Homo sapiens: one gene and its partners. The protein of the gene in region 2 purifies or fractionates together with the protein of the main gene of each other region. This does not show direct contact. Each region holds a gene or a part of one and is shown on either strand. Other genes may lie near its edges. The genes, in order: CIAO2A, NFS1, SNX16, CHD1L, SUCLA2, PPM1K and SUGCT.

What was found.
Region 1: the proteins of NFS1 (region 2) and CIAO2A purify together in Homo sapiens (co-immunoprecipitation; one large-scale study listed by IntAct). This does not show direct contact.
Region 3: the proteins of NFS1 (region 2) and SNX16 fractionate together in Homo sapiens (co-fractionation; one large-scale study listed by BioGRID). This does not show direct contact.
Region 4: the proteins of NFS1 (region 2) and CHD1L purify together in Homo sapiens (co-immunoprecipitation; one large-scale study listed by IntAct). This does not show direct contact.
Region 5: the proteins of NFS1 (region 2) and SUCLA2 fractionate together in Homo sapiens (co-fractionation; one large-scale study listed by BioGRID). This does not show direct contact.
Region 6: the proteins of NFS1 (region 2) and PPM1K purify together in Homo sapiens (co-immunoprecipitation; one large-scale study listed by IntAct). This does not show direct contact.
Region 7: the proteins of NFS1 (region 2) and SUGCT purify together in Homo sapiens (co-immunoprecipitation; one large-scale study listed by IntAct). This does not show direct contact.

Annotation. Positions count from the first base shown.
Region 1 is NC_000015.10:64,083,839-64,087,338, reverse strand, and holds part of CIAO2A (cytosolic iron-sulfur assembly component 2A), read left to right. Parts: intron 1-3,500. UniProt on the Homo sapiens protein: Component of the cytosolic iron-sulfur protein assembly (CIA) complex, a multiprotein complex that mediates the incorporation of iron-sulfur cluster into extramitochondrial Fe/S proteins.
Region 2 is NC_000020.11:35,689,353-35,692,852, forward strand, and holds part of NFS1 (cysteine desulfurase isoform a precursor), read right to left. Parts: intron 3,019-3,500; exon of another isoform or gene 2,897-3,018; intron 1,214-2,896; coding exon 1,061-1,213; intron 1-1,060.
Region 3 is NC_000008.11:81,821,686-81,825,185, forward strand, and holds part of SNX16 (sorting nexin-16), read right to left. Parts: intron 2,256-3,500; coding exon 2,107-2,255; intron 1-2,106. UniProt on the Homo sapiens protein: May be involved in several stages of intracellular trafficking. Plays a role in protein transport from early to late endosomes. Plays a role in protein transport to the lysosome. Promotes degradation of EGFR after EGF signaling.
Region 4 is NC_000001.11:147,284,184-147,287,683, forward strand, and holds part of CHD1L (chromodomain-helicase-DNA-binding protein 1-like), read left to right. Parts: intron 1-167; coding exon 168-316; intron 317-1,140; coding exon 1,141-1,304; intron 1,305-2,114; coding exon 2,115-2,317; intron 2,318-3,451; coding exon 3,452-3,500. UniProt on the Homo sapiens protein: ATP-dependent chromatin remodeler that mediates chromatin-remodeling following DNA damage.
Region 5 is NC_000013.11:47,987,774-47,991,273, reverse strand, and holds part of SUCLA2 (succinate--CoA ligase [ADP-forming] subunit beta, mitochondrial precursor), read left to right. Parts: intron 1-2,292; coding exon 2,293-2,392; intron 2,393-2,570; coding exon 2,571-2,733; intron 2,734-3,500. UniProt on the Homo sapiens protein: ATP-specific succinyl-CoA synthetase functions in the citric acid cycle (TCA), coupling the hydrolysis of succinyl-CoA to the synthesis of ATP and thus represents the only step of substrate-level phosphorylation in the TCA.
Region 6 is NC_000004.12:88,274,562-88,278,061, reverse strand, and holds part of PPM1K (protein phosphatase Mn(2+)-dependent 1K), read left to right. Parts: intron 1-818; coding exon 819-919; intron 920-1,284; coding exon of another isoform or gene 1,285-1,325; exon of another isoform or gene 1,326-3,135; intron 3,136-3,500. UniProt on the Homo sapiens protein: Serine/threonine-protein phosphatase component of macronutrients metabolism.
Region 7 is NC_000007.14:40,271,005-40,274,504, forward strand, and holds part of SUGCT (succinyl-CoA:glutarate CoA-transferase), read left to right. Parts: intron 1-3,500. UniProt on the Homo sapiens protein: Coenzyme A (CoA) transferase that reversibly catalyzes the transfer of a CoA moiety from a dicarboxyl-CoA to a dicarboxylate in a metabolite recycling process.

The DNA of each region.
Region 1 (3,500 bases), on a different chromosome or scaffold from region 2:
CGGGCAGATCACGAGGTCAGGAGATGGAGACCATCCTGGGTAACATGGTGAAACCCTGTCTCTACTAAAACTATAAAAAATTAGCCAGGCATGGTGACGGGTGCCTGTAGTCCCAGCTACTCAGGAGGCTGAGGCAGGAGAATGGCGTGAACCCGGGAAGCGGAGTTTGCAGTGAGCCGAGATTGCACCACTGCACTCCAGCCTGGGCATCAGAGCGAGACTCTTATCTCCCAAAAAAAAAAAAAAAAAAAAAAGCAAAATTAGCAAGGCATGGTGGCACACACCTGTAATCCCAGCTACTTGAGAGGCTGAGGCAGGAGAATTACTTGAACCTGGGAGGCAGAGGTTGCAGTGAGCTGAGATCATGCCATTGCACACCAACCTGGGCAACAAGAGCAAAAACTTCATCTCAAAAAAAAAAAATTCCCATTGGCATGGCGGCTCACACCTGTAATCCCAGCACTTTGGGAGGCCAAGGCAGTGGATCACTTGAGGTCAGAAGTTCAAGACCAGCCTGGCCAACATGGTGAAACCCCATCTCTACTAAAAATACAAAAATTAGCTGGGCATGGTGGCACGCACCTGTAATCCCGGCTACTCGGGAGGCTGAGGCAGGAGAATCGCTTGAACATGGGAGGTGGAGGTTGCAGTGAGCTGAGATTGCGCCACTGCACTCCAGCCTAAGCAACAGAGTAAGACTCTGTCTCAAAAAAAAAAAAAAAAATCCCATTGCTAGAAAAAGCATTACTGAATGCTGAATGCATGGTTATTTTTGGTCATTGGACAATTTGTGAACGAACAGATACTGAAAGTACTGCTGTGGGTGTTGTGGAGGGGGTGTCTTAAAATATTTTGACATATAAGAAAGAGTTCTTAAATGGAGAGTTCAAGAACCTATAGCAAATTTATTTATTTATTTATTTTTTGAGCTGGAGTTTAACTCTTGTCACCCAGGCTGGAGCGCAATGGTGCAATCTTGGCTTACTGCAACCTCCGCCTGCCAGGTTCAAGCGATTCTCTTGCCTCAGCCTCCCAAGTAGCTGCAATTACAGGCGCCCGCCACCATGCCTGGCTAATTTTTTTTGTATTTTTAGTAGAGATGGGGTTTCACTATGTTGGCCAGGCTGGTCTCGAACTTCCAATATCAGGTGATCTGCCCACCTCGGCCTCCCAAAGTGCTGGGATTACAGGTGTGAGCCACCACTCCCAGCCAGCAAATTCATTTTTAAAATTAACATTTATTTAAATTATATGAGTAACATGTTTATTGGCAGTAATTTTGATACCCCACAAAAACATAAAGAAAAAAACCAGCTATTATGAAAGAATGTCACTGGGTGCAGTGGCTCACTCTTGTAATCCCAGCACTTTGGGAGGCCGAGGCGGGCAGATCATGAGGTCAGGAGTTTGAGACCAGCCTGGCCAACGTAGTGAAACCCTGTCTCTACCAAAAATGCAAAAAATTAGCTGGGCGTGGTGGCGGGCGCCTGTAATCCCAGCTACGTGGGAGGCTGAGGCAGGAGAATCGCTTGAACCCGGGAGGCGGAGGTTGCAGTGAGCGAAGGTCACGCCACTGCACTCCAGCCCAGGCTACAGTGCGAGACTCCGTCTCAAAAAAAAAAAAGAATATATGCTCTGGGCTAAAATTCCAGGTCTATTGGCTGTACCGTATTGTGGGCTTCGGCAAGTTACTTAACCTTTCCAAGACCCAGTTTCCTTATCTGTAAAACAGGAATAATAAGGATATCTATAGAGTCGTAAGAGTTAAGTAATAGCATGAAATACATGAATTATTTTTCTCATTAAATATTTCTTTTTTTAAATTTTTTTTGTTGTTGAGACAGGGTCTCACTCTGTCACCCAGGCTGGAATGCAATGACACGATCTCGGCTCACTGCAGGCAGCCTCCACCTCCCGGGCTCAAGTGATCCTCCCACCTCAGTCTCCTGAAAAGTTAGAACTTCAGGCAGGTGCCACTATGCCTGGCTAGTTTTGCCATGTTGCCCAGGCTGGTCTCAAATTCCTGGGCTCATGCCTCAGCCTCCCCAAGTGCTGGGATTACAGGCATGAGCCACCATACCTGGCCATCATTAAATATTCTTTAATTATATAGTTATAGGTTACATGCTAATCATATTGGTACATCAGAAGTTTTGTAACCATTTGGACTACTTCTAGCCTTTTGCAATTATAAATAATACTGTGATGAGCAACTTTATTTTATTTTATTTTATTTTATTTTATTTTATTTTATTTTTTGAGACAGAGTCTCACTTTATTGGCCAGGCTGGAGTGTAGTGGCCACTGGAGCTTCCACCTCCCAGGTTCAAGTGATTCTCCGCTTCAGCCTCCCGAGTAGCTAGGATTACAGGCATCCTCCACCAAGCCCAGCTAATTTTTGTATTTTTAGTAGAGACGGGGTTTCACCATGTTGGCCAGGCTGGTCTCGAACTTGTGACCTCAAGTGATCTGCCCTCTTTGGCCTACCAAAGTGCTGGGATTACAGGTGTGAGCCACCGCGCCTGACCGAACAACTTTATATATAAATATTTTTATTTATTTATTTTTTGAGACGGAGTTTCACTCTTGTTGCCCAGGCTGGAGTGCAATGGCATGATCTTGGTTCACCACAACCTCCACCTCCCAGGTTCAAGCGATTCTCCTGCCTCAGCCTCCCAAGCAGCTGGGATTACAGACATGCACCACCACACCTGGCTAATTTTGTATTTTTAATAGAGATGTGGTTTCTCTATGTTGGTCAGGCTGGTCTCTAACTCCCAACCTCAGGTGATCCGCCTGCCTTGGCCTCCCAAAGTGCTGGAATTAGAGGGGTGAGCCTCCGTGCCTGGCCTTATATAAATATTTTTATATATCTCATTATTGCATCAGGATAAATTCCTATACGTGGAATAATTGGGTTAGATTATGTAAGTATTTTGAAGCCTCATGGTATATATTGGTAAATCCCTATCTGGAAGTTTATACTGTTTGACGCAGGAGTTAAGGAACTAATTTTATAGAAGAAAATATTCGCCAGACGTGGTGGCCCACACCTGTAATTGTAACACTTTGGGAGGCCGAGGCGAGAGGATCACTGGAGCCTAGGAGTTTGAAACCAGCAATCTCTTAAAAAAGAAAAAAAACATGAAAAAGCTTGAATAAGTTCAAATTGCATCATGATTGCAGTTATAGAAAAATGTGTACGTGGACAAATATCAGGAGAGTGCATGAAATAAAAACTGTTCTGTAAGGGTGCTAACATTAGATTATAGTTGATATTTCAGATCTGTACACTTCCTGTAGAAAGTTTTGTCTTAGCCCTTTCGTTATGCATTTCAGCTAAGACCATTGGCTTTTTATTTTTTATTTTTATTTTATTTTATTTTATTTTTTTTTGAGACAGAGTCTTGCTCTGTTGCCCAGGTTGGAAAGCAGTGGTGCTGTCTTGGCTTACTGCAACCTCTGCCTCCTGGGTTCAAGCGATTCTCGTGCCTCGGCCT
Region 2 (3,500 bases):
GGCGGCTCATGCCTGTAATCCCAGCACTTTGGGAGGCCGAGGCAGGTGGATCACGAGGTCAGGAGTTCGAGACCAGCCTGGCCAATATGGTGAAACCCCATCTCTACTAAAAATATAAAAAATTAGCCAAGTGTGGCCGGGCACGGTGGCTCACGCCTGTAATCCCAGCACTTTGGGAGGCCGAAGTGGGTGGATCACGAGGTCAGGAGATAGAGACCATCCTGGCTAACATGGTGAAACCCCGTCTCTACTAAAATACAAAAAAACACTAGCAAGGCGTGGTGGTGCATGCCTGTAATCCCAGCTACTTGGGAGGCCGAGGCAGGGGAGTCGCTTGAACCCGGGAGGCAGAGGTTGCAGTGAGCCAAGATCGCGCCACTGCACTCCAGCCTGGCAATACAGCGAGACTCTGTTTTAAAAAAAAAAAAAAAAAAAATTAGCCAGGTGTGGTGGCACGTGCCTGTAGTCCCAGCTACTCAGGAGGCTGAGGCAGGAGAATCACTTGAACCCGGGAGGTGGAGGTTGCAGTGGAGTGCCACTGCACTCCTGCCTAGGTGACAGAATGAGACTCTGCCTCAAAAAAAAAAAAAAAAAAAATTAACTGGGCCTGGTGGCATGCGTCTGTAATCCCAGCTACTCGGGAGGGTGAGGCAGGAGAATCATTAGAACCCAGGAGGCGGAGGTTGCAGTGAGCCGAGATCGCGCCACTGCATTCCAGCCTGAGTTATAAGAGCCAAACTCTGTCTCAAAATAAAAAAAAGAAGTAACAAGTCCTCCAGAGGTTGCAGAGAGCTGAGATCAAGCCACTGCACTCTAGCCTGGGCAAAAGAGTGAGACTCCATCTCAAAAAAAAGAAAAAGAAACAAGTCCTCCAGAGAAAAGGAGGACAGTACACACTCAAGGGGAACATGATCTCGTTCTCTGCCAGGCTTATTTCTCTAAACTTCATCCTAACTGTTAGATCTATTCCTTCAAGCTCCAGCTAGGGCCCAAGAGAGAAATTTACAAGCTGAAGCCAGGCTCCTCCATTTTTGCTCCTCCTGCCAATAGCCACTCCTACCTTTAGGTCAATGATCCCACTCTTCTGCACTGGGAGGTAGGTGACCTGAAAGCCCTCAGCTTCCAGTGAACGGCAGGAGTCCAAGACACATTTGTGTTCTGTCTGGGTGGTGATCAAGTGCTTTTTCCGTGACCTGTAGAATCGGGCCACCCCCTAGAAATTGGTGGTGACAGATGGAAGGAGAACATACTCAGAGAGACAGCAATGACTTCAATCTCATTTGTAAAGGAAAAGTGGGCAAGAACAGTATGCTCCAACACCAGTTCTCTCATACCAACTGAGTATCCTATAATTCAATTCTGAGGCTAACTCTCCAGACTTAGTGAAAACCCCATGGGTTAAGGGCTCAATCGTACAAGACTGCCCCTAGTTCAGATACCAGACATAAGTCCCAGGGGTCTCAAGCTACCCATACTTCTGCCCAGTCAAATACAAATTCAGGGCTTCCCGAAGCCCGGTCAAGTTCAATAATTCACTAGAATAAATCACATTTGTCCAAACCCATAGAATGTACAACACCAGTGAATCCTAATATAAGCTATGGACTTTGGGTGATAATGATGTATCAATATCAGGTCATCAATTGCAACAAATGTACCACTTGATGGAGGATGCTAATAATGGCAGAAGGCTGTGCATACCTGGGGGCAGGGCATATATAGGAAATTTCTATACCTTCCTTTCAATTTTGCTGTGAACCTAAAACTGCTATAAAAAATAAAATCTATTAAAATAATAATAGTATACAGATTAATGTAGGTATTTAAAAATCTGGAGAAATATACAGCAAATTAGCAGTGAAAATGTGTTTAGAGTTCTACTCTATATTATTGGAATTTATGATTCATTCATTTAACCAATATTTAGCACCTCCAGTATCCCAAGTAATTTTCTAGGTGCCAGTGATATAACAGTAAACAAGTCATGAGTAGGTATTACTGTTAATATCACAAGAAACAATAAAGGTACATTTAAAAATTCCTGGAATTTCAACTATTACAAGAAACTAAAAAAAACATTTATCTCATTGAAGAAAAAAAAAAAGCGGCCAGGTGCAGTGCCTCACGACTGTAATCCGAGCACTTTGGGAGGCCGAGGCAGGTGGATCATCTAAGGTCAGGAGTTTGAGACCAGCCTGGCCAACATGGGGAAACCCCATCTCTACTAAAAATTAAAAAATAAGCCAGGCCCGGTGGCACGCACCTGTAATCCCAACTACTCAGGAGGCTGAGGGAGGGGAATCACTTGAAATCAGGAGGCAGAGGTTGCAGTGAGCCAAGAGTGCTATTGCACTCCAGCCTGGGCAACAGAGCGAGACTGCATCTCAAAAAAAAAAAAAAAAAAAAAAAAAAAGAACGCCAGGTGCAGTGGCTCATGCCTGTAATCCCTCCACTTTGGGAGGCTCAGGCAGGTGGATCACGAGGTCAGGAGTTTGAGACCAGCCTGACGAACATGGTGGAACCCCATCTCTACTAAAAATACAAAAATGGCCAGGCGCGGTGGCTCACACCTGTAATTCCAACACTTTGGGAGGCCGAGAAGGGAGGGTCACCTAAGGTCGGGAGTTCAAGACCAGCCTGACCAACATGGAAAAACTCCGTCTCTACTAAAAAAAATACAAAAATTAGCCAGGCGTGGTAGTACATGCCTGTAATCCCAGATACTCTGGAGGCTGAGGCAGGAGAATCGCTTGAACCCAGGAGTTGGAGGCTGCAGTGAGCCGAGGTCACGCCATTGCACTTCAGCCTGGGCAACAAGAGCAAAACTCTGTCTCAAAAAATAAATAAATAAATAAAAATAAAAATACAAAAATTAGCGAGGTGTGGTGGCACGCACCTGTAATCCCGGCTACTCAGGAGGATGAGGCAGGAGAATCGCTTGAACCTGGGAGGCAGAGGTTGCAGTGAGCCGAGATCATGCCCCTACACTCTAGCCTGGGCGACAGGGTGAGACTCCATCTCAAAATAAATAAATAAATTAATTAATTAAAAAAAAAAAAGGGGGCTGGATGTGGTGGTGGCTAATGCCTATAATCCCACCACTTTGGGAGACTAAGGCAGGAGGATCGCTTGAGCTCAGGAGTTCAAGACCAGCCTGAGCAACATCATCTATACTAAAAAAAAAAAAAAAAAAAAAAAAAAAAAAATTAGCCTGGCGTGGTGGTACACATCTGTAGTCCCAGCTACTCAGGAGGATCACCTGAGCCAAGGAGGTCAAGGCTGCAGTGAGCTGAGATCTGGCTACTGCACTCCAGCCTAGGTGAGATCAAGACTCTGTCTCAAAAAACAGAAAAAAGAAAAAAAAATGGGCCAGGAGCAGTGGTTCACACCTGTAATCCCAGCACTTTGGGAGACTGAGGCAGGTGGATCACCTGAGGTCAGAAGTTTGAGACCAGCCTAGTCAACATGGCGAAACCCCGTCTCTACTAAAAATACAAAAA
Region 3 (3,500 bases), on a different chromosome or scaffold from region 2:
GTCACATTGGCTTCAATTTTTTTTTTCTAATACACAGTATATCAGTGAATATCAATAGTTATATCATTCACTCAAGAAGTACTTATTGAGAACCAACTATGTTAGTGCTGTGCTAAACATTAGATTGGATGGTGAATAAAATAGCCACATGACCTGTTGTTAAACATCTTACAATCAATCTGGTGGGAGAAAGACAAATATTGACAGAAATAATTATAAGCTGAAATGCTATGAAAGTGAAGTACCAATTAGCCTTTCTCAACTGAGATTCCAAGAGAGAACTGACCCCTACTGATAATGATTTAAGTGATTGTCTCAATTCTATTGAGACTGGCACATAGCTAGTATCATCTTAGAATATAGGAAATAAGTTAATTCATTACCTGTGGGTGATGAACGGTGTCTTAAAGCATCAGAGCCAGTTGAGAAGGGATGGTACAGACTCTGTGATAGAGAACTGACCTAGTGTTTGGTGGTGGTGGTAGTGGTGGTGAGTGGTCAGTCAGGAGGCCAGTTACCTAACGAAGTGCAGTTTGTGTTGAAAACTGAAGGATGGGTAAGGTACGAGGTCAGGGTTGGATGGGGTAGTAGTGTGAAAGGCTGCCTTTTCAGGAAATAGCATATTTGAAGGCTCTGAGAAACAAGGAGCAAGCTGATTTTGGAGAATTAAAAGAAGACCAATATGGCAAATGTACAGAGAAGGGGAGGTGGGCAGGAATAACAAAACCTAAGATTGAAAAGAAGGCAGGCAGGCAGGGACCAGAAAGAATAAGTCAAACTGCATCACAAAGATCACTGTGGCTCTACTGGGCTATAGTAGTAAGAGGGGAGGAGGAAGACCAGTGAGAAAGCATCTACAGTAATTAAGGTGAGAGATACGTGCTTGGACTAGGGTAGTGATGGCAGGGATGGAGAGAAGTAGACAGACTTGAGTGGTACTTGCAAGGGAAATGTTAAGGGTAGTGAAGGATGTGTTAAAGATGACTCACAGGTTCTGGGTAGATGATGCTGCTACAAATTGGAGGAAAAAAGTCTGCATACTAAACTTTCAAATATGTTTTAGGTTTGACGTAATTTTGAGATATCTGAAGATGTCGAGGAGACAACTGCATATATCAATCTGGAGTAGAAAGAATGGGTTTGGCTTGTAGTTCCTTCATTAAGAGAAAAATAAGGGAGGATGGGCAGAGACCTTGAGAAGCCATCAGGCTTATGTGGCACACACTGAAAAGCAAGATGTGTATATATATATATACATATACATATATATATATATATATATATATATATACACATATGTGTGTGTATATCTATATATATATATCGCACGTGTGTCATGCAGGAAAAAAATTGATACATGCAAAGGTTGAGAAAAAGAGGTAGAAAAAATTAGATAGAATGGTTTTCTTAATTTGTTTTCCATCCTCATGTGAAAAACTGCCCAAGACAGTTACAGGCCCAAGTTATCTATAAGCTATTGCTACACTGTAAATGCTTTCTACTTTTTTTTTCAAAGTAGTTTTAATTTATCTGATAACATAAGTTCCAAAATTAGATACTCAGCTGATATTGAACCACTAAGCAATTTTCTTGTAAATATATTCTGAAGCAAAAAACCCACATAGATCTGTTCTTTTCCTTTTTTAATGCTGTTTGGTATTTTCACTCTACCTTCTATGTAAATTAAGCCAATTTCACAATTTTAATATTTTTGCATTACTTTGGAGAAATATAAAGAATATTACCCTTACAATTACATAGTATCATATTAACCAAAATTTTACTAATATGTAAGTGGTTTTGTTTAAGTCATTGCTAAAATACAAAATACTAAAAGTTTACCTTTGGGTGGTTTAGTACATGGTACACTGGATTTTTCACTTTACTGACTATTTAAAATAAGCTTTGATAAAAATGAAATGTCAAATAAAGTCCTTATTGAAAGAAAGCAAGAAAATCTCTTGTAGTACTTTGTTAAAGAAGACAAGTAATTATACTCCAACCCTGTATTTTTGTGCTTAAATAACTATGATCATAGATTTATTCTTTAATTTACGCCAGTTATTGGAATGCTTTTATAATCTCTTATTTCAATTCGTTACATACCAGTTAGCAATGTCCTTGTGAGCTACTAAATTTTGAAGAAACGCTTGTAATCCTAATTGTCTGTCTTCTAAAAAGTCAGCATTGTAATTATCTTTAAACCAGCGTTTTGGAGGAAGTGCTAGTCGAAAACCTGGAAACATCTCTTTTAACTGAAAAAGAAGAAAAGAGCAAATACAATGTTTAACTCAAGCACTATCAATTCTACAAAATCTATCCTGTTGACTACATGAAATTATTCATGAAATAAGTTTAAAATAAAAGAATTAAATTCAGTTAAGCTTTTTATGCCTTGTTTTATTTCTTGTTTTCTACCAGCTGTGTATACAGAAGAGTTCCAGTCTTTCCACATCCTTGCCAGAACTTGGCATTGTCCATCTTTTGAATGTTAACCATTTTAGTGGGGGTGTAGAACCATTTCATTCTGGCTATAATTTGCATTTCTTTGCTGACAAATGAAGTTGAATATCTTCTCATCTGCTTATTTGCATTTGAGTATCTTCAATGGTGAATTATGTATTAAATTTTTTAGCACCTTCCCTTTAAAAAAATTAGGTTGCCTAAGTTATAAGAGTTCTTTATATATTTCAGATACAAGTCCTTTGTCAGATACATGCATTACAAATATTTTCTCCCAACTTGGCCTGACTTTTCAATTTGTCTTAACAGAGCAGATTTTTTTTAATTTTAATGTTATTTAATTCATCCATTGTTTCTTTTATGGTTTATGCTTTTTTTTAGATCATAAAAAAAGTCTGCTTACTCCAAGGCTGTAAAGATTTTCTTCTATGTGTCTTTCCTAAAAGTTTAGTTTTAACTTTTATATTCTGGTTATGACCTATTTTATACATTTGGCTTAAATTTTACTTTCTTAGGGAAGACTTTCCCAACCCTGTAAACTAAGTGAAGTCTTCCCTTTTACATTCTGTTCAAGTTACCACAACTGTGTAACAAATTACCTAAAATCTCAGTGATACAAGATAACCATTTCTTAATATTAAGCTCACAGATTTTTTAGGTCAATAATTCATATGAGGTACAGTAAGGATGATATATCTCTATTATGCAATGAATTCAGGCCTCAGCTGAAAGACTTGAAGGCTGGGTGCTGGAACTGTCTGAAGTTCACTCACTTACATCTATAGTGGATGATGCTGGCTGCTGGCTGAGAACTTTGCCAAGGTTGTCAGCCATAAGCCTAATACTGGCCTCTCCAGGTGTCTTGGACTTTTCTTGCAGCATGGAGGCTGGCTTCAAAAGGGAGCATTCCAAGAAAGCAAGCCAGAATGAAACTGTGCACTTCTTGTAATCTAGGCTTAAAACTCACACAGCATTATTTCCACTGACCTCTATTGGGTTGAGTAGTCGCAAGACCATCCAGGTTCAAGGGGAGGGGA
Region 4 (3,500 bases), on a different chromosome or scaffold from region 2:
ATTCTTCAGTGTCAGTGGGATGGGAAATGAAATACCTTCCTTCATATGGACTTAGCCCATTTAGAATATAGGCTGTTCTCCTGTCCACTTTTGTTATTGATTTGAATAGCATTAATCTATTTTTCCTTGGTATCTAACATTTCTCTCTTTGTGTTTTATGTTGTTAGAAAATCATATGTACTTATTTGAAGGTAAAGATTATTCTAAAGAGCCCAGTAAGGAAGACAGAAAATCATTTGAACAACTGGTAAACCTTCAGAAAACCCTTTTGGAGAAAGCTAGTCAAGAGGGCCGATCACTCCGAAATAAAGGCAGTGTAAGAACTGTTAATTTATTTAAAAGTTGTTCTTCCAAACTCTCATTCTAAAACAAACAAAAAAATGATGCTGGCATCGTTTTGTTCTCTTAGGATGATTTGTCAAGAAATAAGTATGTGTTTGCTGAAATGTTATTATAATTAACTATACCCTAGTATAAAAACTATGTAAAAAAGTCAGCATGAAAAACATAAAGGAGAGAATATATTGTACGATGTCATGTAGGTGAAAGCAGCCTTGTCCATCCAAGTCACCCCTAAAGGCATTCCTATATTATACCAAAATACCATATCCTGCTGTTGGTAATGATGACCCTATGACAAGAAGAGAGGATGGCAATCATAAATGATATATGTAGTGTTCACAGTGTTTGGCAGTTAACGTGGTCATTAAATGCTAGCTATCACTAAGATAATCATGATGTTGAAATACAATCTTAAAAAAGTTACATAATACATTGCAGAAAGAGTTCCATTAAAAATGGCTGAAGTGGCATCCTGCAGGGTATGCTTTTAGTCAAGGAAAAAAGTTACTTTTCTGAAGTAACTTATTCCTAATGAAATGAATCAAAATGACTGTTTCAACCATGCCAATGCTAGGGCTGAGTTTACAGCATGGTATCCTGGTCACTGTGCCTGTGAAGTGTGTAGTATGAACAGTGCCTCCAAGTGCTTTGCCTCCAGTTCCCACCATGCAGGGTGTGTGGAGATGCAGTGTTCTGTGGAATATTAAGCATGTTGCTTCCGTACAGTGTGTGTTAGGGATAATGAAATTCGGGGAGGAATCTTCTTGACCCTGGTGATGGATCTTGTTCTTCCTCTAGGTTCTCATCCCAGGCCTTGTGGAGGGATCTACCAAAAGGAAGCGGGTTCTGAGTCCAGAAGAGCTGGAGGACAGACAGAAGAAAAGACAAGAAGCAGCTGCCAAGAGAAGGAGACTCATAGAGGAGAAGAAGAGGCAAAAGGAAGAGGCTGAACATAAGAAAAAGTATGTCTGCGTTAACCAAGCTGGCGGCCACAGTTGAAGGAGTCACTATTGTATAGTGAGACCACAGTTGAATATCACTTTAAAAATACAGAAAATTCATTTTAAGTTGGTTCCTATTGGTAACAGAATACTTTCTGAAAACATTTCCTCTAGGTAAGTGAAAAGTCTCAGTGTATAAGGCAGGGAAGATGCATTCCATTAAAACCAGAATTGTTTTCTTTTTTCTTTTGAGATGGGTTCTTGCTCTGTTACCCAGGCTGGAGTACAGTGGTATGGGCACAGCTCATTCAGCCTCAACTTCCCATGCTCAGTGATCTACCCACTATAACCTCCCTAGTAGCTGGGAACACAGGTGTGTGCCACCATGCCTGGCTAATTTTTTTTATTATTTGTAGAGACAGAGTTTCACGGTGTTGCCTAGGCTGGTCTCAAGATCCTAGGCCCAAGCTGTCTTTCTGCCTTGACCTCCAAAGTGCTGGGATTACAGGCGTGAGCTACCATGCCCGGCCAAAACCAGAAGATTTTAAGATTTTATTGTAGCTATCTGACAAAGAATAATTTACTTCAACAATCTCTTTTAGTCTTAAAAACAGGAACATTCAGGGAGTGCTCATTATTGAATTGTAGTCAGGAAGCAGTTAGCCTAATCAGTAAGACTTGTTTACAAATAAGTAGAAAACTTCAATCAGGGTGAGTTTCTAATTGCATTTCTACTTGGCAGATATTGTTTGTGAACAGCAGTATAAAATGTGCTCCAAGGGAAATTGTGATTGTCTGGGTTAATTTCCTTTTGTCTCTGGCCTGCTAAAGGATGGCCTGGTGGGAATCCAACAATTACCAGTCCTTCTGCCTGCCCTCTGAGGAGAGCGAGCCAGAGGACCTTGAGAATGGGGAAGAGAGCTCTGCTGAGCTGGATTACCAAGACCCAGATGCTACTTCCCTCAAGTACGTTAGTGGTGATGTCACCCACCCTCAGGCTGGGGCCGAGGATGCTCTCATTGTGCACTGCGTAGGTACGAGAAGTGGTATGGGCTGGGGATGGGGGCCTCAGTCCTTATGGTGCCAAGAACTGGGGAGGATGGGGCACTGGGACTGGGGTGGTGGTCCCAGTGTAGTATTGTACAGTCAAAAAAGTGTGAATTTTAGAGTCAGGAGATATTCCAGAATCATTTCACTCTTGGCTTTCTCATTTACCTGGTTTAGTTACCCAACCTTTCAACTTCAACTTCCTTATCCATATGATGGGACAATATCTGTCTTATCCTCTGCACAAGGTTTTTAAGAGGGTGAAATGAAGCAACATTGATAAGACAAACAAATCCTTTGAGAAAAAGCAAAACTTCAAGCTTGTTCCCTTGCTTGACCTTTGTACTTTTTACTTCATCTGCCTAAAACCCTTTCTTCCCAAATAACCACATCAAGTGTTGTTCAAATGTCTGTTTCTCAGAGAGGTCTTCTGTGATTACCTCATATAAAACAGGCCCCATCCCCCCTGTTATTCTCTGTCCCTTCTCCCATATTTTCCTTTATCACACCTGTCCCACCTGACACATTACCTATGTATTTGTTTATTTGACTGTTGCTTTGCATTAAAAAATACACTTATGGCAGCAGGGGTTTTTTCTTGTTCGCTGCTGTGACTGTGGTGCCTAGAACGATGCCTTACGTGTAATACATGCTACCAAACGTTTGTAGTGTGAATGAATGACTATAAATGCTAAGATACTAAGCAGCTTTGTTAGTACCAGCTTGAATAAGTCACTTAACCTTTCCTGTGTACTGTTTCATAACCTTGCCTATGTGCTGTTGCATAACCTATTGCTTCTACTCACTCTGTAATGTTCCATCTACTCTCCGTCCTTCCGCAGTCATTTGCCAGGAATCACAGATGCACCACAGAGATTTTGCTCATTGAGAACCCTAATTTTTGAGATGCTTTCCTGTTATCATGGCCCCAGCTATATCTTCCAGAAAACATAAACATATTTGGGAAGTCCAACCTGTGATATTCCTAGGAGATAAGATATTTTGTTTCTTCCCTTTGAAAAATCATTCTTCCACAAGTCCCTTTTGTGTGCCTTTGTTTTTCTAAATTGTGCACTGGACTTCACCTCCTATAGATGAAAATTTTCTCTTTCTTCAAACAGATGACTCTGGCCACTGGGGCAGAGGTGGTTTATTTACAGCTCTGGAAAA
Region 5 (3,500 bases), on a different chromosome or scaffold from region 2:
AGATAAAAAGTGTAGAGGGTATTATAAGGTCTTCTAGGCCATTGTAAGCACTTTGGCATTTAACTGAGTGAGACTGGCATTCAGTGCAAGGTTTTAAGTAGAGGAATGGTGTGCCTGCTTTGGCTGCTGCCTTGAGAATATTCTGTGGGGGACAAAGGTCATATAGTTAAGAGATAGTGGTGGTTGGGATCAGAGTCTAAACTGCAGGTGATGAGGAATGGTGAAGATTCTGGATAAATTTGAAGATAGAACCAGTATGATTTCCTGGCTGAATGGAAGTGGGGTTTGAGAAAGACAAGTTTTTTAAACACTCTCTTGGCTGACTACGCATAGGGTCATCATCTGGTTTAAATAGCATGTATTTCTGGTGAAGGCTTACATCAGTAATTTTCTAAATGTTCTTTTAAAATAATTGTTAATGTGTAAACTTTAGGTTGTTTTTGTTTGGTTTCAAACTCCATTTCCTACCTCATTGATTTGGTTGGTTCATCTGATTAGGTGGGAGCTTCCTCTCATTCTGCTTGATAAATGCATCGTGGAGTGACATCCTAGTTGTAGAGGACTCTACTTCAGTCTGTTCAAATCCATGTTTATGGAGTAGTTGTTATATCCCAGAGACTTCCTTGTGCTTGGGATATAATGAATACAGTGAGACCTTTAGCCCTGATCTCAAAGGTTATTTTGCCATAATGTATAGTTGGTGCCACCCTGCCAGTGTGGGCAAAATGCTATGAGAGGCAAAATGAGGAGGCTCTGAATTCTGCCTGTCTGGTACACAGAGAATGCCTTTCTAAGAGGTATTACTCTTTTTTTTTAACTGATACATAATATTTTTGTGGTACATGTTATATTTTGTTACATGCATAGAGTGTGTAATGATCAATTCAGGGCATTTAGGATACCCATCACCCAGAGCATTTACTCTTTTGAGACAGCCTTGCTCTGTCCTCCAGGCTGGAGTGCAATGGCACAATCTTGGCCCATTGCAACCTCCGCCTCCCGGATTCAAGTGATTCTTGTGCCTCAACCTCCCAAGTAGCTGGGATTACAGACATGTACCACCATGCCTGGCTAATTTTTGTATTTTTAATAGAGATGAGATTTCACCATATTGGCTAGTCTGGTCTCGAACTCCTGGCCTCATGTGACCCGCCTGCTTCAGCCTCTCAAAGGGCTGGGATTACAGGAGTGAGCCACCGCACCGGGCCCATTTACTCTTGATCATGAATGATGAGTACTATCTAGGCTAAACAGCCAGTTTGCTGGTTTTCCACAGCAAATTAGAAAGGAGAGGAAAAGGGATAAATAGTAATCAGTCTACCTGTTAAAGAAGAAAAATTCAGTCCATTTATTTAAAAATATGCATAAGCTTTGCAAGCATAGAATTCTGAAATCTTTTGATACAGATACCTTAATAACTCCTGATAGTACTACTCATGCAGTACTGCTCAATAATGTATTTTAATAGAACTTTCTCTTAGTGGGACAGTATAAATCAGTATCAATACTGGTAATGGTAATATCCCCCAAATCATGACATATTCCTGCTATAGCGATATAACTCAGATGTTCTCAGGACAGCAAGTTTACATGTGAATAGAGAGGGAGGGACGTGTTAGGAAGACATGAAATTCAATTTTGTACTTTTGATACTTTCCAGAGTTCTAGATGACACTTTCCAAAGTGTCAAGAAATGGTTAAATTATTTTCAGTTTACTTTTAAGAAATGGTTTAATGTGGCCAGGTGCGGTGGCTCATGCCTGTAATCCCAGCACTGGCTCACGCCTGTAATCCCAGCACTTTGGGAGGCCGAGGTGGGCAGATCATGAGGTCAGGAGATCGAGACCATCCTGGCTAACATGGTGAAACCCTGTCTCTACTAAAAATACAAAAAAATTAGCCAGGCATGGTGGCGGGCGCCTGTAGTCCCAGCTACTCGGGAGGCTGAGGCAGGAGAATGGCGTGAACCTGGGAGGCGGAGCTTACAGTGAGCCGAGATCGCGCCACTGCACTCCAGCCTGGGCGACAGAGCGAGACTCTGTTTCAAAAAAAAAAAAAAAGAAATGGTTTAATGTAAGTGACGAATTTTGAAAATTGTGGGCCTTTTAGACAGTGATTATTTTAGTGTTCTAATCTAGAAAATCTACATAAAGAGAATGCCTTATTTTTGGACATTGTGAATAAATTAGACTTGATTTAATAACACCTGTCAATATGTATGTTAAATAACAAAATACTATGTCTGGCATGCTGCTCCATGCTTCATATTTAATAGAAGTGTTTTTCTTCTAGGTTCAAAAGATGTCGTGATAAAGGCACAGGTTTTAGCTGGTGGTAGAGGAAAAGGAACATTTGAAAGTGGCCTCAAAGGAGGAGTGAAGATAGTTTTCTCGTAAGTCACATTTTTTAAGGAAAAATCATCCTTGTTAAAGACTGATTAAAGATTACTTATTGAATTGATGAAAATACTGAAATTTAAATATTAGATGAGATAAAATTTTGGCTATTATGTGGATTTGCTTTTTCTCAACTGGAGGAAAGAAAAATTTGAGTTCTTTTTCTTATTTTAGTCCAGAAGAAGCAAAAGCTGTTTCTTCACAAATGATTGGGAAAAAATTGTTTACCAAGCAAACGGGAGAAAAGGGCAGAATATGCAATCAAGTATTGGTCTGTGAGCGAAAATATCCCAGGAGAGAATACTACTTTGCAATAACAATGGAAAGGTCATTTCAAGTGAGTAATTGTAGACATGATACATACGGGATAAATTTATGACATTCAATTTCAAAAGTCCATTATTGTTTCTATTTATGTGGGAAAGATTTTAAAAGTACAAATTATAATCTGTTTGTATGTCATGAGCATGATATTTATGTCATTTAAAAAACAGCTTCTTTAATGCCGTAAAATTTGATATATAATATCATGATCTTAAAATTATAGGAAAAATTCTGCTGTAATAAATTTCATGGGATTCTCAAATTGTTAATTCACTAAAAGCAGCTTAAATCATCTCTGGATCATCTCCAGATTGAGAAAATTATATCTAGCATAGTAAAATATTCTAATGAAAGAGAAAGTTGCTGAACCCACTAGAAGAATGTGTATCCATTGCCTCATCTTCTGTTTTCTCAACTTCTTGGGTTTGTTTTTTTTTTTTTAATAGTTTCGGGTTTGTTTCACTATATGATTCAATATTTGGTAAATTGAGGGATGACATTAAGTAGCAAACAATATGGTTTTAAGGAGTATTACATTAGCACAGCTCTCCTCTCTTTATGGAACCTAAAATGTTGAACATAAAGCTTCTGGTGAAGAGAAAATCCCTTTATAGACCTGGTGTTTGGAAGAGAGCATTGATAATCATTTTATACTAGAATTATCTGTTTTTCGAGGGTATTAGGTTTTACAAGCTGAATCTGTGTGTTAACTAGCTTGTTTTTTGAAGCAACTGGGTATATATTTGAAAGCCCCAGTACGGATTTCATGTAGAACATTAA
Region 6 (3,500 bases), on a different chromosome or scaffold from region 2:
CGTAAACATAGTTACTTGAGTGGTTGCATGCTGCTGCTTCACGAATGAGCAGTAGTTTAAGTGTGCCATTTATTACTTATGGTTATCACAATTTCAGAAATGCATGTTTTAACAACTCCCCTGGGGAAAGCATTAACCAAAATCTATAGCACTTAATTTGTGATCATTTTAAGTGAAGTGGCATAATGTACATGAGATAACCTATGAGAAGCATTTACTCCCATCAGTGTAGGACAGATAAGTGCTTCAGTAAATGGTAATTACTCTTTCAAGTGGTGTGAATAGCTTTGAATACCTGACTTGTTGAAAATAGCTTTGGATGATTGGCATTAGTGTGGAAAAATGCATTTAATGCAGGCATTTTGGAGCTCTTCCGTTTATTTACTTCAACTAGTATTAATGCATTTTTGAGGATCACATTACTGCTAAAATTGAAAGAGGGAGAACATGTGATGGAGTTACGACCATGTGACTATTTTTGACTTCCCAGTGACCATTTCTTGACTTCCTGTGTATACCGCATTCCACGAAAGAACTCACAATGGGAAGGAACTCTCGACCTCTCAGGGTTGTGGTAGTGAGGATCAATTCTTCAAGGACAAGGACTTGGACTTTCATTGTTGTGCCCTTAAAAGCTTATCACAGTGCCTGATACTTTGTGGATTCTCAATAGGTATTCCTTAGCCAGTAGGTCTTCAGCATTTGACAGGAAAATCCTGAGGCCCGTTGTGTGGAATGACTGCTAGCTAGAGTAACAGTGAGGAGAAAAACCTATTGTAAAATGATTGTTTAAGGCTCTTTTTTTCCTCCCCACAAAGGGATTTGCTTCCTAAGGAGAAGAACTTGGAAACTCTGTTGACCTTGGCTTTTCTAGAAATAGATAAAGCCTTTTCGAGTCATGCCCGCCTGTCTGCTGATGGTATGTAAAACTATCACATTCCTTGGATCCTAGGGAGTACATGGGGTGGGGGAGGAGTAAAAAGGAAACACTTTAAGTCCTTTGGGGGAGGGGATTTTAATGGACAATTGTTTGTAAGGATTTATGTAGAAATGAGTTTATATGAAGAATCACATTAAATGCTGTTGGGAACTCCAATTAATGTTAATACCTCACTTTTAAATGAAATATATTGGAGAATTTTTCAGAAAGAGAAGCCCCGAAACAGTTCTGATGTTGTACTTTAGTTTTTAAAAGATTTTAAAAATGTTTAATCTGTTTGCTTATTTTATGGACAAAATGTCCATACTATGAGTTTTGTTTTGGGTTTTTGGTTTTTTTTTTAGATGGATCTGGTGACCAAGTGCTGAAATACACTACAGGGTAATCACATCTAGCGAGGACAGTCATTGTCCAACAAGAAAAAAATTGCAAATAGGTCCTAAATAGAAAAAGACAATGGTTAATATGCACTAATTTGTATAACTAGAAGGAAAATATTTTTCTGTCACTTCTTAAAAAGCTCAATCTTGCAGCTTTTCTCTGGTAACTAGTGATATTTTCAGCATAAGGTCATGCTAGCTGAATTTAAAATTTTGTGTACTGTATGTCCTTAAATTTTGAAAGTGAAATGTTTCTGGTTTTGACTAAATTTATCAAAACCATTTCACGAAAATTCAGCAAACGTTTTCTAGTTAGCTAGTCCCAAATCTTTTGCTGTTAAAGTTAACCCTGAAAATTTCTGTACCAGCCAAATGAATGTGTGCATGTAACCTTGTAAATGATTTGAAAATGAATCATGCAATAATCTTGATCTGTATTTGGTTCATCCTTTTCTTAAAAAAAAGAAAGAAACCAAGTGCACCACAGAAATGTCATTTGCACAGTCTTCAGTTGGAATACATAAGGATAGAGATTGTTTGCATTTCACAGCGAAGGAACTGAAGATTAGAGTGGTAAAGGTCAGTTCAGAGTTAGGGCTGGGATTTTCCTGACCACCAGCATTATCTCTCTTCTCTCATGAGGAGAGGAGAAGGTAACTCTGCGATGGCTCTATTTACCATCTTGAGATTTTTTCCTGAGCTTTTTTTGAGAACCTTACTATCACACTCCTCAGGAAAGCATTACAGTCCACTCTCTTCAGGGATATGTTTTCCAGTTTGTAGATCATTTAGGCCCATTTTCTTTTCTTTCATTCCTTTGGAATTTTTCTTTTTCCTTTCAACTGGACCCTTACCTTTAAGAAGACAGAAGCTGAAAGAGGTAAACTTTATGCATAAGACTTAGCTCTTGTTCCAAATAGTTAAAACACATGAAGGAAAAGAGGAAATGAAATATTTTCTTATGGTTTTATTTTTATTACTTCCTGAATTTTGGTATGCTCTTATTTCATAGTAACTGAGTTGGCTGTGCATCTGGCTATGTCTCACACCACAATGTTTGTTGACTGTAGTGTCGGTGGTGTGCCCCAGCTGTTCTGTAAATAGCTGCAGCTTACTGGGCAAGGTTTTTGGATGAGAATGTCCAAATTTATCCCAGGCATGTGACCACCAACCAAAAACATTGGCCTTCTCAATGCCATCAGCCTCTTTTAAAAGTATCTAGTCAATGTAGATGCTTAAACCAATCGGTGATTGACTTGATGTAAAATATGACAGGACTCCTTTTATTATTGAATGAAGTATAACTCAACAGAATTTTGAACTTAAAGAATTTAATTAACTTGCCTATCTTAAAAGAAACTTTCTAAAGATACCTTTGTCACAAAAACATTAAACAGTTGTATAAAGAAATTAATCACAAAAATGTAATTCATATGCTAACTTCAGCAGCACATACACTAAAATTGGAATGATACAGAGATCAGCATGGTCCTTGTGCAAGGATGGCACACAAATGCATGAAGAGTTCCATATTTTTTATTCTTACTAAAATCAATTCATTTGTAATAAAGAAATTAAAATGCATTATTTAATTTAATTCCTCTATCATATGCTTTGAAGTAATGATCCCAGAACATTCTTAAGATATTTTAAAATGTATTTTTCATATAATGGTAATTTGTTTGAAAGTATAATGGAGCAAGACAAGATGATGCTCTTAGTGTGTACTAAAAGAAAAGGTCTATTATAATATTGTTATTAAATCTTATTTTGTTATTAAATTTGTTATTTGTTATTAAAATCTTATTTTGTATATATTCTTATCGGTCTGTGTTTTTTAAAAATTAGTGTTTTGAGAACATTTAAAAATTTTATTCTTGATAAGTTGCCAGAGCCTTCAAAGATGGCAAAAATTGTCTTGATATTTAGGGCCTATTTTATCAAATACATTAAAGCCACTAAAGATAGAATGCCATATGTTGTGTAACTGTTCAGTTTATGGATTTTTTAAAATGTCATTTTAAATTTCAAAGTTATTATTTAAGTTTAAAACTTTAGTTTTTAGCAAGAACTGAAGCAGTATCAGTATTATAAGAGTGGATAATATTCTTTTCGGCCTATGTATATAGATAGGACCAGTGCCAGTGAAACAAAATTTTGTAGTAAGTGCAGTTTACCCT
Region 7 (3,500 bases), on a different chromosome or scaffold from region 2:
AGTGTGTAGAATACAACTGATGTTTGTATATTGGCTTTTATCTTGCAATCTTGCTTAACTCGATTACTAGTTCTAAGAGTTTTTTAGTGGATTCCTTAGGACTTTTGATATATAAGACTGGGTCATCTGCAAATTGAGATAGTTTTACTTCTTTCTTTGCAACCTAAATTCATTTTATTTCTTTTTGTACCCTAACTGCACTGGCTAAAACCTCCAGTGTAATGTTGAATTGAAGTGGTTAGAGTGGACATCCTTGTCTCATTCTTTTAAAAAATAATTAGTTAAATTTTTTTTCTTTTGTAAAATATATAGGCGGGGGTCTCACTATGTTGTGCAGTCTGGGCTCCAACTCCTGAGCTTAAGTGGCCCTCCCTTCAGTCTCCCAAAGTGTGGGATTATAGGAATGAGCCTTCGTGCCTGGCCTCTTGTCTTGTTCTTCATTTTAGGGGAAAACATTCAGTTCTTTACTTTTAAGTGTGATCTGGGTTATGATTTTTAATAGATGCCCTTTATTAGGTTGAGAAGTTTCATTTTTTTTTAGCTTTTTAAAAATCGATACATAATAGGTGTACATGTTTTCAGGGTTCATGTGATCATTCCATACATTAATATAATCAGATCAGGGCTGTTGATATACCCATCATCACCTTAAATATTTACCATTTCTCTGTTCTAGGAACATTCCAATTATTCCCTGCTAACTATTTTGAAATGTACAGCCTTTTGATGTTAGCTATAGTCACCGTACTGATCTACTGAACAACAATTCTTATTTCTTCCATCTAAGCGTATGTTTGTACCCACTAATCAACCTCTCTTCATCTCTCCTCCCCCTACCCTTCCCAGCCTCTGGTAACCAGCAGTCTGCTCTCTATCTTCATGAGATCTACTTTGTTAGCTTCCACATCTGAGTCAGAATATGTGATATTTGTCTTTCTGTGCTTGGCTTCTTTCATGTAACATAATGTCCTCCAGTGACATCCATATTGTTGCAAATGACAGGAATTTATTCTTTGCCCAGCTAATTTTTTATGGCTGAATAATATTCCTCTCTCTCTGTCTCGCTCTCTCTCTCTCTCTCTCTCTCTCTCTATATATATATATATATGGATGTTTCAAAAACAACTGCAATGTGACATATATATATATATATATATATATATATATATATATATATATATATATATATACAGGGTCTCAGTCTTTTGCCTAGATTGGAGTGCAGTGGCATGATCATAGCTCATTCCAGCCTGGATGGAACTCCTGCACTCAAGTGATCTTTGCACCTCAGACTCCCAAGTAGCTGGTACTAGGGGTGTGTGCCACCATGCCCGGCTAATTTTTGTATTTTTTGGTAGAGACAGGGTCTTACTCTGTCACCCAGGCTGTTCTTGAACTCGTGGCCTCAAGTGATCCTCCTGCTTGGCCTCCAAAGTGTTGGGATTTATAGGCATGAGCCACTGTGCGTGAACACATTTTCTTTATCCATTCATCCTTTGATGGACACTTGGGTTTATTCCATATTTCCGCTGTTGTCAATAGTGCTGCAGTAACCATGGGAGTGCACATATCTCTTCGTGATTGATTTTCTTCTTTCTTGGATATCTACCCAGCTGTGGAATTGCTGGATCATATGGTATTATTATTATTATTATTATTATTTTTTTTTTTTTGAGATGGAGTCTTGCTCTGTTACCCATGCTGGAGTGCAGTGGCACGATCTCAGCTCACTGCAGCCTCCGCCTCCCGGGTTCAAGCAGTTCTCCTGCCTCAGTCTCCTGAGTAGCCGGGATTACATATATGTGCCACCACACCTGGCTAATTTTTGTATTTTCAGTAGAGACGGGGTTTCACCATGTTGGCCAGGCTGGTCTTGAACTCCTGACTTCAGGTGATCTACTCGCCTTGACCTCCCAAAGTGCTGAGATTACAGGTGTGAGCCACCGTGCCCAGCCTTTAGTGTAACTTTTATTGAAAAAAAATTCCACGTATAAGTGGATCCATGCAGTTCAGAACTTTGTTGTTCAAGGGTCAATGTAACTTTGAACTTGTCTCTCACTTTTAAGACATTAAATAATTTTAAATTCTAATGACAAATTTAATTTTAAGTGTATTGATTTAAGGCATTACATTACAACTTTTGACAATAATAATAGTAAACTGCCAGACATTTCCAAGTTTCATGGCAATATCGTCCTTGAAATTGTATTGAAAAGCAGGGAAAAATAAGTTTAGCTACTATACCGTCTCAGTTACTTGCTTTAAACATTATTTTGCAAAACAGTACTTTTGCAAAACAATTAACATGGTTTATGATGGGCTACAAAAAAAGGACAAATTAACTTCTGAAAATGATTCAACAGAAGCTAGACTTAATAAGGAGGTAATTGAATCACTGCATCAGCCAGATGAAGTATGAAATGTGAGTTTTTTTAGGTATTCTGTGCGATTTAAGGCTTAGCAGAATTAAAGGTAGTGACAAGTAGAAACTATCTGATATATCAATGACTAATAACAATGTTGATAATTTTGATAGGTGATTTTTATTTTGTGTCAAGTACTGTTCTAACATCTTTACATATGGGCCAAGGATTGGATTGTCAAATCAGACTGACATGAAGTGGAGATGTTAATCAATATTAAGCTTTCCTTATAATTTCAAGAATACAAGCAATCAAAAGGCTCAGAAAAAGCAGAGACATGTCTGGGACATTGAGAGAGGCCCCCGGATCCTTTCTTACTGCAATAGACAAAACTCTGTGGCCCAAAGCAGTAGATGAGGTCCTTAATGAAATATATGAGTTATTAGCAGGGAGTGTTACAGGCTGTGAAACATCTCCGTTTTATACCCAGATAGTTGCAAAGCTCATGCCCTGTGCCCAGTGCTCCATGTCCCATAAATCTTGAGATTCTCAGTTTGTTTATCATAGTAATCCTAATTCAGGGGCAGTCTGCTAACAGCTTTTTATGGGTAAATAGTCTTTTTTTAAATTATTAAGCAAACACTGTTAGTATTTTTGCCAGCTATTGGTGTGCTTACAAGGAGGTTTGACCAGATTTTTTACCTTCTTTTTTTTTTTTTTTTTTTTTTTTTGTGAGAGAGCCTCTCACCCAATAGGAGAAAAACACTGCTTTAACTCTTTCTCCCCAACAAATTAACTCATTTAAATTCAATTAATTTTTTTAGCATAAACAAGATAAAATATATCAAGAAGGAATTTAAAACATTGAAACATCAGATCGGTTTCTAAAAAATCTTTTATTTTTAGTTTGGTTAGTAGGCATTGGGGAGAGAAATGCACTGAGAAGTATATAGTAAATATAAATATTTTCCTATTACCAACAGATATTCACAATAGCAATTTATTTTATTAACTTTCTTGTGTGTATGTGTCTGCACAGTTAATAGACAATTCTTTTTTCTATTTCACATTAGAAGATTTGAGAAATCATATGATTCTTTTAATGTTTAATTATTTCTTCTTTCTCAACCCAACCTT